Homo sapiens: one gene and its partner. The protein of the gene in region 2 purifies or fractionates together with the protein of the main gene of each other region. This does not show direct contact. Each region holds a gene or a part of one and is shown on either strand. Other genes may lie near its edges.

What was found. The genes of interacting proteins can lie anywhere in the genome.
Region 1: the proteins of FMO5 (region 2) and OGA purify together in Homo sapiens (affinity purification with mass spectrometry; 2 studies listed by BioGRID and IntAct, with this or other methods). This does not show direct contact.

What each region holds. Positions count from the first base shown.
Region 1 is NC_000010.11:101,808,237-101,816,050, forward strand, and holds part of OGA (protein O-GlcNAcase), read right to left. Parts: intron 7,717-7,814; exon of another isoform or gene 7,529-7,716; intron 5,371-7,528; coding exon 5,319-5,370; intron 4,892-5,318; coding exon 4,794-4,891; intron 4,071-4,793; exon of another isoform or gene 4,016-4,070; coding exon of another isoform or gene 4,012-4,015; intron 2,079-4,011; coding exon 1,948-2,078; intron 1-1,947.
Region 2 is NC_000001.11:147,193,897-147,201,710, forward strand, and holds part of FMO5 (flavin-containing monooxygenase 5), read right to left. Parts: intron 7,609-7,814; coding exon 7,256-7,608; intron 1-7,255. UniProt on the Homo sapiens protein: Acts as a Baeyer-Villiger monooxygenase on a broad range of substrates. Catalyzes the insertion of an oxygen atom into a carbon-carbon bond adjacent to a carbonyl, which converts ketones to esters.

The sequences.
Region 1 (7,814 bases), on a different chromosome or scaffold from region 2:
TCCAATGAGCATTTCCTTTGAATTTTATGGAGCTCAAAGAGTTTCATATTTTGGAACATTTCAGATTTCTGAATTAGGGATACTCAACTTATATGACAATATGATCCAACAAAGTGGCCTAGCCTCCTAGTCCTCATGGGCTGCTGCTGATTGTAGAAGACCCAACAAAGTCAGAAAAATACAGAAACATGAGTAAGTAACCTTAAGACATGAAAAAGCCAGGCTGTGTCCTAGTCCCAAAAGGCACACTGATCCCTTTGCAGATAAACCTAACCAGGTATGAATCAGAAAGAATAGAATTTTATCAAATAGTAAAATAACTTCATTCATGAAAATTTCAACTGCCTTAAATTTTTTACCAGACATTTTAATGCCACCCATATAAATCTTTGCCTAAAGAAATAAGACATGTATATAGAAAAACCAGCAAACTAAAATAACAGAAAAATGGGGCCGGGCGCAGTGGCTCACACTTGTAATCCCAGCACTTTGGGAGGCCGAGGCGGGCAAACCATGAGGTTAGGAGTTCGAGACCAGCCTGGCAAACATGGTGAAACCCCATCTCTACTAAAAATACAAAAAAATTAGCCAGGTGTGGTAGCACATGCCTGTAATCCCCGTTACTCAGGAGGCTGAGGCCAGAGAATTGCTTGAACCCAGGAGGTAGAGGTTGCAATGAGCTGAGATCGCGCCACTGCACTCCAGCCTGGGCGACAGAGCAAGACTCAGTTTCAAAAAAAAAAAGGAAAATGGAAGCCCCCTACATTGGACCAAAGGAAGTCTGCAGCTTTTACATTAAGCAGACTTTACACTCAATTAGGTTCACCTAGTCTGTTTTTCTTCTCATCTTGGGAAACTAGCCATTTCCAGACATCTCTTCGTCCATATAATTGAAGAAACTAATGTCTAATAGGTAAAACCCTGTTTCTGTAATCTCAGGTGTAAATTCAAGCCAAGCAGCCTAGGGTATATATAATTTCTCAAAATGTGGTTCTTGACCACCAATCACCTAGATTCCCGGTCCCCACCTTATCCATTTGGGAAATAAAGTCCAGCAGTCAGCATTCTTCCAAGCTTCACTTCTAATCATTCTTTTAAGGCAGTTCTTATGCAAACTGAAATTTGAGAAGAACTAGTACCTCCAGTAAAGCTCTTTTTACTTAATTTGGAAAATATTCCTCTATCAGAAGGATTCAAGGCTGGGTGCACTGGCGCACGACTGTAATCCCGGCACTCTGGGAGGCTGAAGTGGGTGAATCACCTAAAGTCAGGAGTTCGAGACCAGCCTGGCCAACGTGGCAAAACCCTGTCTCTACTAAAAATATAAAAATTAGCCAGGCATGGTGGTGTGCCTGTAACAGCTACTCAGGAGGCTGAGGCATGAGAATCGCTTGAACTTGGGAGGTGGAGGTTGCAGTGAGCCGAGATTGGGCCACTGCACTCCAGGCAACAGGGCAAGACTCTGTCTCAAAAAAAAAAAAAAAGAAAAAAAAAGCATTCAAAGTAAAAAAAATTCTTATAGAAACAAAGAAATAAAAAACCAGGCATGGTGACTCACACCTGTAATCCCAGCACTTTGGGAAGATCATGAGGTGAGCAGTTCGAGACCAGCCTGGCTGGCATGGTGAAGGCCCTGTCTCTACTAAAAATACAAAAATTAGCCAGGCATGATGGCACGCACCTATAGTCCCAGCTACTCGGGAAGCTGAGGCAGGAGAATCACTTGAACCCGGGAGGCGGAGGAGGTTGCAGTGAGCCGAGATTGTGCCACTGCACTCCAGTCTGGGCGACAGAGCAAGACTCTGTCTCAAAAAACAAAACAAACAAACAAAAAAAGAAAACAAAGAAATAGGAATTTGATTTCCTTTTAACATCGTAAAAGCAACTGAGTAAACTTCTAGTTTCAAGTACATAGTCAGGAAAAATGAATAAAAAGTAAGGAGTTACCTGGTCCAATTTACGTTTCAATGTGGATACTTCCTTGGGGTTAGAAAAAGTGATATCCAATCCAGGTGAGATCGCATAGATGAACTCTATCTCATATTCTCGTGCAGCAGAGATGAGAGTCATAAGTTGCTCTAAAGAACAGAGTCTATGTTTTTAGAAAGCAGAACAGAAAACTAAAAGAACCTTCACTGAAGGTTTAACTGAAGAGGTTATTTCTTCTAACTTACAAGAAAGGAAAAGATCCTCACATTTTACAAATTGTCATGTCCAACTTAACAACAGGCCATACAAAATGGTACAAGCCTGAAGTGATTTAATGTCACAGTAAGGGAAAAAGAATAGTTTTCACACCTTTGAAATCTGAACCAACAGAAAATAAGAGGCCCTTCTTTTTCACTTCCAAATAGTTTCTTATCCTTTTGGGGAAACAGGCTAAAATCAATAAACATTTTCCTCCCTTTCATTGCCACTTCTCAAAAACACTGAATTGTCAATTCTCTTACTGAACTTAAGCCATTTCTATTTCCTGCAGCATTTGAAAGGCATAAAATGCAGCCGCTGCTTTTTTATTTTGAGAGCCTTGCTCTGTTGCCCAAGGCTGGAGTGCAGTGGCACGATCCTGACTCACTGCAACCTCCACCTCCTGAGTAGGTGGGATTACAGGCATACCCGGCTAATTTTTGTTTAGTAGAGATGAGGGTTTTGCCATATTGCCCAGGCTGGTCTCGAACTCCTGGCCTCAAGTGATCCGCCTGCCTTAGCCTCTTACAGTGTTGGGATTGCAGGCATGAGCCATGGTACTGGATCTTGCTTTTTTTTTTTGTTTTGCCATCTCTGAACAGCTGGAATTCCTAACTAAATAAACCTACACATAACTACTTTATAATATGAAAGAAAGAAAATGCTTTCTTAAGAATCAGGGTAGGCCAGGCCCAATGGCTCATGCCTGTAACCCCAGGACTTTGGGAGGCCAGGCAGGAGGACTGCCTGAGGTCAGGAGTTTGAGACCAGCCTGGTCAACATTGTGAAACCCCATCTCTACTAAAAATACAAAAATTAGCCAGGCGTGGTGGCGCATACTTGTAATCCCAACTACTAGGGAGGCTGAGGCAGGAGAATTGCTTGAACCCTGGAGGCAGAGGTTGCAGTGAGCCAAGATCGCACCACTGCACCCCAGTCTGGACGACACAGCAAGACTCCATCTCAAAAAATGAAAAAAAATGAAAAAAAAAAAAAAAAAAAAAAAAAATGAATCACACCTGTAATCCCAGCACTTTGAGAGGCCACGGCAAGTTGACTGCTTGAGTTCAGGAGTTTGAGACCAGCACAGGCAACATGGCAAACCCCTCTCTCTACAAAATATACAAAAATTAGCTGGGTGTGGTGACCCGCGCTTGTAGTCCCAGCTACTTGGGGGACTGAGGCGGGAGGATTGCTTGAGCCGGGGAGATCAAAATTGCAGTGAGTCACTGCACTCCAGCCTGGGTAACAAAGTGACAAACGCTGTCTCCAAAAAAAGAAAAAGAAAAAGAACCAGAGTTAAGTCATGGCCTTAACAATCTTGACCTGTTTCTATCTATGGGAAAAACATTAATTATAGATTTTAACCTTTTAAAATTATCAATTGACAATTTTCCTAAATCAACTTAACTACTACTAGTATATACTATAAGACATATTTTTGAATAATTTTCAGTAGTATCTCAAGATAGTCATTTTTACTCTATTTTGATTATTGATCACATTAAGTTTCATTACCAGCACCACCAGAAAGTAATTAAGTTGAAGGCACACTTAAATAGAGTAGTAAACCACAACACTAGATGGAGATGGGGTAAGCTGTAATTGCTTCTTTGTAATTCAAGAAAACTTTCAGCCTTCTGTGCCTTGGCTGGGCTCTGTAACCAAATATCTTGTTAGCTATATGCGTATACCATTTAATTTCAAGTACAAAAATGTTTCACCATTTACAAGTTCCCAAAGAAAAGCACCTCTCTAATTTGGCGGTTCAATGCTATACTACTTTTTATCAATTTTATGTAACCAACTCAACGTTAAGTATACCCATAGCAGGCCGGCCGGGCACAGGAGCTCAAGCCTGTAATCCCAGCACTTTGGGAGGCTGAGGCAGCAGAATCTCTTGAACTCGGGAGGGCGAGGTTTGCAGTTAGCCGAGATCGCACCACTGCACTCCAGCCTGGGGGACAGAGCAAGACTCTGTCTCAAAAAACAAAACAAAACAAAACAAAACCCAAAGACAGCCTATTAATGGCTTCCCACTTTCCTGGACTAGGGTTTAAGGACCAGTAACTGCTGACAAGGCCAAGCCATACTAGAGCCTGAAGCAAAAGGAACAATCAGTAGTGCTGATCCTGTCTTTACCTAAAATTTTAGCATTGTGTACATCATGAATTTCTGCATTAATTTTGGTTTTTTAAAAAAATTGCATAAAATATTATTTATGTTGATTACTTTTTGGGGGTCCCTTAAAATTTGCACCCAAGGTACGTGCCTCACTTGCCTTGCCCTGGGCCTAGCCCAGCTCCAGCACTTCTTTGCCCAGTGGCCCACTGTTTAATCCACTGGCAGAAGTAAGCAGCACAATCTATGACCACAGAACAGATGGAGTCAGCCTAGCACGCCCATGATATCACACATATGGTCATGACCTTGCTAGCGCAGAGCACTCTTTCAATCTCAGCTAACTGAATAGTTACCAGATAGAAGAAAAGGAAACTACCTACAAAATAAAAATAAAATGTCATAAAATTCTTGTACAACTACATTTAAAATATAACCGTTTTCTTCACAGATTTTGAATTTATGGATAAAAAGAAAAAGATTACCAGCTTCCTCCACTGAATACATCTCTCGCCAAAACATCCTATGTTTGTAGTCATCTTTTGGGGCATACAAGTATGTATTTAATTCCCATTTCTGGAGCCTTAAGGAGAAAGAAAATTACATATGTATAAACAGGCAACATTCATAGGCTGTCAATCTCCATTTCCCTCTTCTTGGAGCATCTCCATCTCATACAAAGCTAATATTCTATGACAGTAGCTTTTAACCTTTTTGTAATCAGTGGAATTTAAAAAAATTAAGTATTACAATGTATGCCAACATACAAAACACTCTTAAAAAACACAACAGCTCTGGGTAAGGTGAAGCCCAAAACTTATTCAGCTCCCCAGGAAAAGTTTGAAAATCAAAGGCCTAGGTGAAGAAAAAAGGGACCAAGGTAAAATAACTTCTGCAATTGAGAAACCATCAAAATGCACCTGGGCTATTCACTGTTAGTATTTCTTCAAACAAAAGAAAATGTTAAGAGTTTAAGGTTCTCCTCTCTCCTTCATATAATGAAGATTTACCTTCTAAAGAGTTCTTTTCTCTGTTCCATAACCCAAGGTCTTCCATAAAATCCTAGATTCAAAGTAAGAATGAAATTATATTCAGTTTTAAAATGTGGTAAGCTTTATTGAGAAAAGCAAGTTACAAAACATATAATACAATCCTATTTTGTAAAAAGCATAAAATACACCAAATCGGAAGGATATTTAATAAAATACTAAGGTTCCTTTAATCTTTGGGTGGTGACGTTACAAGGTGACTTTTATTCCATTTTTGCTTAGGTAATTTTTTTTATTTTTTCTACCATGACATTAGTTACTTAGGTGATAGTTATTTTAAAACAAACATCTATCATCTTTCCACTGTTGATAAAGTCCAAATATATTTAATTCCAATTTTTTAAGAGATCTCAATCTTATAATGGGGAACGGCAGCAATGTAATACAAGCTGCCAACAGTAACAATTACTTCCTAGAATGATAGTAAAACTGCTTTAGAAAGGGTGAGGGGAGGCCGGGTGAGGTGACCCACGCCTGTAATCCCAGCACTTTGGGAGGCTGAGGCAGGTAGATCACTTGAGGTCAGGAGTTCCAGACCCAGCCTGGCCAACATGGTGAAACCATGTCTCTACTAAAAATACAAAAATTAGCCAGGTATGGTGGCAAATGCCTGTAATCCCAGCTATTTGGGAGGCTGAGAAACAACAATCACTTGAACCTGGGAGACGGACTTGCAGTGAGCCGAGACTGCGTCACTGCACTACAGCCTGGGCTACAGAGCAAGACTCCATCTCAAACAACAACAACAAAAGGGTGAGGGGAGATAAACAGGTAAAGCAATTAAAAACAAATCAGAGATAGGATTAGGAAAGAATCTGACTTAATTTTATGATCGTGCTCCTCTTTTTTAAAAAAAGTTCCTGGCCAGGACTGGAATTCCAGTTACTTGGGAGGCTAGGGCAGGAGAACTGCTTGAATCCAGGAGGCGGAGGCTGCGGTGAGCCAAGATCCGCGCCATTGCATTCCAGCCTAGGTGACAGAGCAAAACTCTCTCTCTCAAAAAAAGTTCCACATACAATGATATAATCAAAGGGACCAAAAAATGCCTGAAACCACATTCCCAAGAAATTCAACAGCCTAACTGGCCCAAACAACAAACTCTCACGCAATCTTAATTACAGAGCAAAGATCTGAACAAATGAAAATTCAAGAATATTACTTCTGGTCCTTAAACGGAAAGGAATAAACAAAGAAAACTCAAGAATGTCCCCAGAGTATCCTCTAAGAGGACAAAACACTAGTTATGCACACACTGCAGAAAACAAACTCGCAGACCGATAACCTAAATGGTTGAATAAGCATCAAACTGGTATCTGGAACTCCCTAGTGTGCTCATCACAGCTCAAACCACACACTTTACATCTTGTCTAACCTTTACTTTCCACTTGTCTCAGTCTAATCATCAGTAAGAGATAAGGACAGCCTCTCAAGAGTACCATGAAGAAGGTTAATAAAAGCATTCTGAACACAAAATGTTCTACATAAACCCACACAATCTACATAAGAGACTAGTCTAAAACAAATTTCTGCAATGTATTTTAGCTCCAATCTCTAGGCAGAATGACTCCTCTGCACCACAAAAAGGACAATGACAGACCAAATTAAAATTCATTACATACCAATGTATAACTGTAGCACTTTCATCTGGACAATCTAATGTTAGCCTCTCACAAGTGATACAAAATATTCTTTTTTTTTTTTCTCAGGCGGAATCTCACTCTGTCGCCCAGGCTGGAGTGCAGTGGCACTATCTCGGCTCAATGCAATCTACGCCTCCAACTCCCGGGTTCAAGCGATTCTCCTGTCTCAGCCTCCCGAGTAGTTGGGATTACAGGAGCCCGCCACCACGCCCGGCTAATTTTTTCTATTTTTAGTAGAGACAGGGTTTCGCCATGTTGGCCAGGCTAGTATCGATCTCCTGACCTCGTGATCCGCCCGCCTCGGCCTCCCAAAGTGCTGGGATTACAGGCGTGAGCCACCGCGCCCGGCCAATATAAAATATTCTTGATCAGGCAGACCTATACAAGTCTTTAGCATCCCTACGGCACTTAGCATTATCATTTTTTTTTTAAGGAGTAGGCATTAAACATCCTTTCAGAGTTGCTCCAATATAAAAAAAGACTTTTCAAATGTCTAGCTTAATTAAACATTTTAATCTTTAGAAACCCTACCTTGGCTCTTTTGAGAGTCAGGTTCATGGTTTCGGTTGACTGGCACCACAAAGAGGAAGCAATGCTGTTAATGTAAGTTAAAAACCAAGAGAGTTTTGTGATGGAAAGAAAACAAAAAAGAAATCCTAGCAGTAACTATAGTATTTCTATGCTCATTCATTTTACGGCTGGTGCCAACCAAGAGGTATCAAAAAGAGAGAAAAAAAAAAAAAAAAAAAAAAAAAAAGCCAGGCGCGGTAGTTCACGCCTGTAATCTTAGCACTTTGGAAGACCGAGGCGGGCGGAC
Region 2 (7,814 bases):
TACATTTGCTGAGGAGTGCTTTACTTCCAACTATGTGATCAATTTTGCAATAGGTGTGGTGTGGTGCTGAAAAAAATGTATATTCCGTTGATTTGGGGTGGAGAGTTCTGTAGATGTCTATTAGGTCTGCTTGGTGCAGAGCTGAGTTCAATTCCTGGGTATCCTTGTTAACCTTCTGTCTCGTTGATCTGTCTAATGTTGACAGTGGGGTGTTAAAGTCTCCCATTATTATTGCGTGGGAGTCTAAGTCTCTTTGTAGGTCACTAAGGACTTGCTTTATGAATCTGGGTGCTCCTGCATTGGGTGCATATATATTTAGGATAGTTAGGTCTTCTTGTTGAATTGATCCCTTTACCATTATTTAATGGCCTTCTTTGTCTCTTTAGATCTTTGCTGGTTTAAAGTCTGTTTTATCAGAGACTAGGATTGCAACCCCTGCCTTTTTTTGTTTTCGATTTGCTTGGTAGATCTTCCTCCATCCCTTTATTTTGAGCCTATGTGTGTCTCTGCACATGAGATGGGTTTCCTGAATACAGCACACTGTTGGGTCTTGACTCTTTATCCAATTTGCCAGTCTGTGTATTTTAATTGGAGCATTTAGCCCATTTACATTTAAAGTTAATATTGTTATGTGTGAATTTGGTTCTGTGATTATGATGTTAGCTGGTTATTTTGCTTGTTAGTTGATGCAGTTTCTTCCTAGCCTTGACAGTCTTTACATTTTGGCATGTTTTTGCAGTGGCTGGTACCGGTTGTTCCTTTCCATGTTTAGTGCTTCCTTCAGGAGCTCTTTTAGAGCAGGCCTGGTGGTCACAAAATCTCTCAGCATTTGCTTGTCTGTAAAGTATTTTATGTCTCCTTCACTTATGAAGCTTAGTTTGGCTGGATATGAAATTCTGGGTTGAAAATTCTTTTCTTTAAGAATGTTGAATATTGGCCCCCACTCTCTTCTGGCTTGTAGAGTTACTGCCGAGAGATCTGCTGTTAGTCTGATGGGCTTCCCTTTGTGGGTAACCCGACCTTTCTCTCTGGCTGCCCTTAACATTTTTTCCTTCATTTCAACTTTGGTGAATCTGACAATTATGTGTCTTGGAGTTGCTCTTCTTGAGGAGTATCTTTGTGGCGTTCTCTGTATTTCCTGAATCTGAATGTTGGCCTGCCTTGCTAGATTGGGGAAGTTCTCCTGGATAATATCCTGCAGAGTGTTTTCCAACTTGGTTCCATTCTCCCCGTCACTTTCAGGTTCACCAATCCGACGTAGATTTGGTCTTTTCACATAGTCCCATATTCCTTGGATGCTTTGTTCGTTTCTTTTTATTCTTTTTTCTCTAAACTTCCCTTCTCACTTCATTTCATTCCTTTCATCTTCCATCACTGATATCCTACCAAACCCAAATAATTTTTTTTTGTAGTTTTAGTAGAGACGAGGTTTCACCATATTGGTCAGGCTGGTCTCGAACTCCTGACCTCAGATGATCCACCCGTCTCTGCATCCCAAGGTGCTGGGATTACAGGCATGAGCCACCATGCCCAGCCAAAATAAATCTTAATCACATTTTATGCCTAAAGTCCTGTGGAAGATAAGCTTCATTTTCTAAACATGTTTCTTTGATAAGAGTAGGGGTTAAGGCCAAGGGGAACTCATAATACCTAATATTAACTGATAAATTTAAGTAAGATGCACAAACAGTTCCAGTTGTAGGAATTATACACCAAGGACAGGGCTAGACTAAGGCTTAATAGTATTTAAGCCAGTATGAACAATGCTAAGCTTAAACAATTAGTTGTATGCCCCTATAACTAGGGACTATGCCATGTAGAAGATTTTGGCCACATCCAGTCCTAAGGTGTCACTCCATAAAATTGTGGAATATGGAATTTCAGAATGGCAATATATTTTACCTGATACAAGCATTCTTTCTACAAGTACTCTAACCTAGTGGTTATCTCATTCCTCTTTAAACATCACTGGTGATGGGTATCTATAATAATTATATCTGAGGTGATTATATAATTATTTGACTGCTCTGGCTGCTGGAACATTATTGTTTTTATTGACCCCAAGATCTGACTCTTTGCATTTGCACCACTGGACCAAGCTCTGCTTTCTGGAGCCACAGAGTTTAATGTTAATACATGACAGCTCTTGAAACATTTGGAAATGATTGTCATAACTCCTTTAAGTCTTCTCATTATCAGGCTAAACAGTACATGTTTCCCATATAATGGTTTTCACATTCTCTGCCATCTTGGTTGCCCTTCACTAAGCATACTCTAATAACTATCCTGGTGTATCCCTCTTAAAATATGGAACTCAGAAGTTCATCACTCTCAAATAGCCTTCTGTTGTTTTCCATGTGTTTTTACATTTTAGCCATGGGAATTATTATTTATCATCATAAATCAATTAGGAAACACTGAAATGCTTCATTTAAGCTTAATCATAGGTCTCTTCGGATACTCAAAATAAGCGTTTTGAGAGTCAATTTCCAAATTACTTCTACACAACCACAAGTTTTACTTCTATTAGCTAGAAACATGAAGGAGGAGGTATATTTCTTGATTGTGGGAGACACCCAATTCATAAAAGAAAGAAAAAAACAACAAAAAACCCTATCTATTACCCTATCTGTCTATATATAGATAGATAAAGAGGTATATACATCTTAGTCTAGAGCTCATGGGGTGAAAAAATTTAAAAAAATTAAAAAATTTTAAAAAGATGTATACATCTTTTTACGTGTATACTCTGTGGTACAGTTATGTCTTAATTCATAAATTTTGTTTTTGCAGTGTTTCCTTATTTAGACACATTAGCTTTACCATATTTCTTATCTCCCTCCATGTCTTTGCTCCCTGTCTTAGTTTCCCAATTCCAATGAATGGCCTCAACACCTGAACAGATTCTTTTCTGTCTCTCTTCTCCAACATGCTTTCTGTCACCAAATTCTTCAGATTTGCCTGTGAAATTTCATTTAAGTCTGGCTCCTCCAATTCCTTTAGAGTGTCATTACCTTGGTTTAAAGCTCTCATGCTGTCTTACTGAGACTTTTACCACAGGCTCGTACTGACCTATTTCCCATTTCACTCCTCTCTAACATATCTTCTAAACTGGAGATCTGATTTGACTCCTCTTCCAGTTAAAATCCTTCAGTGGTTCTCCAACTTGTACCTTAAATGCAAACTCTTGATATTGCCTGTGAATATTTCTAGTTTCATTTTCCTTCATTCCTATAACACTTTACCAGCATTCTGAACTACTTGCAGTTCCCAGAACTCTATTTGTTCTGTCACTTTCATCTAACTTTGCATAAACAGTAGTGATTATTTCCCCTCTATGGTCAATATTTCCTTGTCCTTTTAGTAAATTCCTATGTAGTTGTAGGGAGAATTGGGTACTTATTGCCCACTGCTCTCATGGCAGCTCTTCTGCATTGCTACTGGAGCACTTGTTTAGGATATAGTTAAATATCTGCTGAATGAACAAATCATTAAGCGTCTGTTTACTTGTCTGTCTTTGATATGGTTTGGCTGTGTCCCCACCCAAATCTTATCTTGAATTTTGGGTCCCACAATCCCCATGTGTCATGGGAGGGGCCTGGTGGGAGGTGATTTAATCATGGGGTGGTTACTCTCATACTGCTCATGCTGTTCTCATGATACTGAGTGAGTTCTCACGAGATCTGATGGTTTTATACGGGGCTTTCCCTTTCACTCAGCACTCATTCTCTCTCCTGCCACCCTGTGAAGAAGTTCCTTCTGCCATGATTGTAAGTTTCCTGAGGCCTCCCCAGCCATGCAGAACTGTGAGTGAATTAAACCTCTTTCCTTTAGAAACTACTCAGCCTCAGGCAGTTCTTTATAGCAGCATGAGAATGGGCTAACACAGTCTTCCTTGCTTGGCTCTGCATTCCAGAAAGATAGGGATTTTCTGTATGGTCATATTTGCTTCTCCAGCCCCTAGCAGAAGGCCTGGTACATACTAAAAGGTCAGTATATGTTATCTGAAGAATGTTGAAGAACAGTGAGGAACTGAAGTTCAGAGATCTTCCAAGGGTTCCAAGACAAGGTGGGAAGGAAGAGAGTCTGAATTAGAGTTCTGTGGTGGTAGGCCTTCAGTCTGCTGTCAGCCTAAAGCAGGTTGTATCTGTGTAATCCTGACTTGCTCCTGCATATTTCAGTGTATAGCTAATGTTATGAGAGAAAAGAGATCTGGCTCCCATTCTGCAATTTCAGTCCAGTTCAGGCTTTTAACATAACTGGAAATTGGCTAAGGTAGCCCATAAGCTGAGATCCTCAAATAAGAAGTTTCTACATCAGAATTTAGAATTTAATTTACCTCAAGGCTAAACTGACATTTCTTAGAATAGATGTTTATTAGATACCTCTTATGTGCTAGGCAGTGGTCTAGGCTTGCAATACAAAGGCAAATAAACATGAGTCCTTTACTTAAGGAGCTATCACTATATTACAAAGGGAGGGAAGAAATATGCATAGACTTTTCCTATAGAAATAAAAAGTAAAAGGAGGGCATATCAAGAAGAAAGCACAGTGGAAGCAAAAGCACAGGGTACAAGGGTACCTGCTGTGTTTGCTGCTTAGTGGGTACGTCATCCAGTGCATCTAGAGTATTGTAGGAAGTATGGTAAAGACTAGTGAAAGATGGGCCTGAGGCCGGGTACAGTGACTCATGCCTGTAATCCCAGCACTTTGGGAGGCTGAGGCAGGCGGATCACGAGGTCAAGAGATGGAGACCATCCTGGCTAACATGGTGAAACCCCGTCTGTATTAAAAACACAAAAAAACTAGCCGGGCATGGTGGCGGGCGCCTGTAGTCCCAGCTACTGGGGAGGCTGAGGCAGTAGAATGGCCTGAACCCAGAAGGTGGAACTTGCAGTGGGCCGAGATAGCGCCACTGCACTCCAGCCTGGGCGACAGAGCGAGACTGCATCTCAAAAAAAAAAAAAAAAAAAAAAAAAGAAAGAAAGATGGGCCTGAAATTGGAGGTTGTATCCAATTTGTGGAGGAACTTTAATGCCAGCCTATGACATAATGACTTCTTGTGATCCAGAGATTTGGTGTAACTTGATATAGTTTTGAAGGAAAGAAAGTTGCTGAGTGAAAATAAAACACTTGCAAGGGCTGCAAAAGACGCAATCAAAACAGAAACTATGTTTCATTTCAGTCAAGGCAAGGAAGTAAATTCAGTGTTCTAGAAAAGAGTAGAATATTTTCTTGACAAGAGAACAATAATTCCAGAGAACAGAAGAAGAAGGAAAATGGGGCTTGGTAGGGAACAGACAAGGAAGGAGGCAGGCTTTGTTGGGCAGACATGAAAAAAATGGGAAAAACAAGCTAATCCAAAGGGTTTAAAATTGGCATAGTGAAGGGATAATTCAGGGAAGAGAAAGGCAAGAATGTGGGAGGCAGACAGATTGGCCATGGACAGAATAAAAAACCCAGAGTTCCTGTTGGAAGTCTGGTAAAGTTAGAGAATTCTGAAGATTTCTTCCTTCCAGGTGTTAGAAAAAAGCTGGAGGAATTAGCACTAGGCTTCTGCTAGCATAGGAAGCTGGGCTTTTTGTACATTTTCCCTAAGATCCCATAATCTCATAACCATAATGCAGACTCTTGCAAATACTCATTTTCTCTATTTCCTCTCAAGAATTCACTTGGTCTTGGAAAAGAGTCCCAGTTGCTTAAAGTATACTAAGATGCTGTGGCCTGTTTTAATGAACTGTTCTCCGCTTATGTAATTGACCCAATTAAAAGATCACTTTAATATGACTAGAATTAGGCCAACTTAATGGGCTATTTGCGTTTGACTACTTGTATAGTTCTCTCAGGTAGTACATAATCTGCTGGATAGGACTGGAAGTAATAGAAATTTGGGGAAATTTAGAAAGGTTGTTGAACTATCAACTGTAATACCATTGGTTCTTTTTTTCTCTGCAACTGTGAAGATTTTCACTAGTGAAAACAAAAAAGGTGTAATTCCAACAGGAACTCTGAGTAGTTTTAATTAAATGCTAGTAACAATAGCAAATTTTGTTATAACAACCATAGAATCAGTGAATTTCTTCTTTAGAAGGACCCTTAAACATCATCTTGTTTCTCTCTATCCTGAGGCTTGAATCTACTCCATACCTTCCCCCTCTCCTGCCCCGGCCCAGTGAGCATTCAGTCATTTGGCATCCTTTTCCTTTTCTGCTTAGAATTTCAGAGGCAGCTGGTTCCATCATGAAATGGCATTGGCTGATAGGAAAAAGGTTTTGGATTTTTTTCTTAATGGTAAGCTGATGTGTAACCCTCAAGATTTCACTCCTTGATTCTGGTTTGACCCTTTGAAGCTATACTGAGTAAATCTAATCCTTCTTCCATGTGCCTTCCCTTCAGATATTTGAAGGAAATTCTCATATCTCTCCTGAAGTTTATCTTCTCCAGGCTAAATCTCTCTCCGGCTTTTTCAGTTGTACTTCAGATGGCATGTTTTCAAATCCCTTAAAAAATTTTTCTCTCTCTCCTTATTAAACGCACTCCAGCTTCACTTTTAAAATGTATCATTAGGTGTGGTCTGGCCAGTTTAGAGAACAACAGTTGTAATGTTCTAGAACATTATAGTTTTTTAATGATGCTAGATTTAATTATTTCTTTGGAAGCTATATCATTCTACTGACTCATATGAAACCTATTCCCCTTTTTTTTTCATATATTCCTAGCCAAAACTGAAAGAGGGGACATAAAAGGAGAAAAGTGAGAATTTGGGGGATTGAATATCCTACAATATTGACTAGTCTGCAACCAGGTCTTAATTTTCGGCCGAAATAAAGTCATACTATTTCTATATTTTATTTTTATCTATAATGAAAGAAGATAAAACTATTTTACTTCAGAAATATATGCCAGTTGCCTAAAATCTAGATGAGTAAATTCTAATTTGGAGTACACATTGGAATTACTGGGGAATATTTTTCTCAAAGATGTTATGACTGCCCCACCCCAGACTAACTAAATAAGCATCAGCAAGGATGGTGTCAAAGCATGCATAGCTTGGAAAAATTTCCCAGGTATGATGTATGTCCATGGTTATAAATTGCTACTTTAGATTCACTCAAAAATATATTTTTCTGTACTAACTTTGTGCTAGGCACTGTTGTAATCATACATGCTATCTCTAGCTATTTAAAAACAAGTACCTAAACAGAGGTAAACATATCACCAAGTAATTAAGTAGTCTATTTGCATGGTCACTTACCTTTAAATACCTGAGTGGCCCAGCGTCCTTGGAGCTCTGAAATGGGCATAATGGCTCCTAAGGGCTGAATCAAGCCTATGATTGCAAGAGTTGGCCTTTCCAGGTTAGGAGGGAAGACCTTTTTATACAGGGATATCTTGTTTTTGACCACTTTGACGGAATCTTCCAGAAATGGAAAGTCAAAGCTATAGCCTGTGGCAAAGATAACAGCATCAATGTCATCCTCCCTGGAGCCATCCTCAAATATGGCAGCTGTCTCCGTGAATTCCTTCACATTTCCTTTCACTTTCACCAAGCCAGAAATGATACGATTTGGCAGGTCATCATTTAAGGTTGGATGCTGACTCAGAGCTCTGTGAGTCGTGACAAAGATCAAGTGGAGAAATGAGAGAAAGAGAAATCAGTACCACATAAGTAAAATTTTGCTTTGGTGGAGGTAAACAGGATGCCAATAATCTTCCCCTTGGTCTATGCATGAAGTTTGGAAAAGGTCTAATTTATACTAGGTTGGCACAGATCAAGATCAGATCTGAAGTTGGACCCTGGATGCACTGAAAGG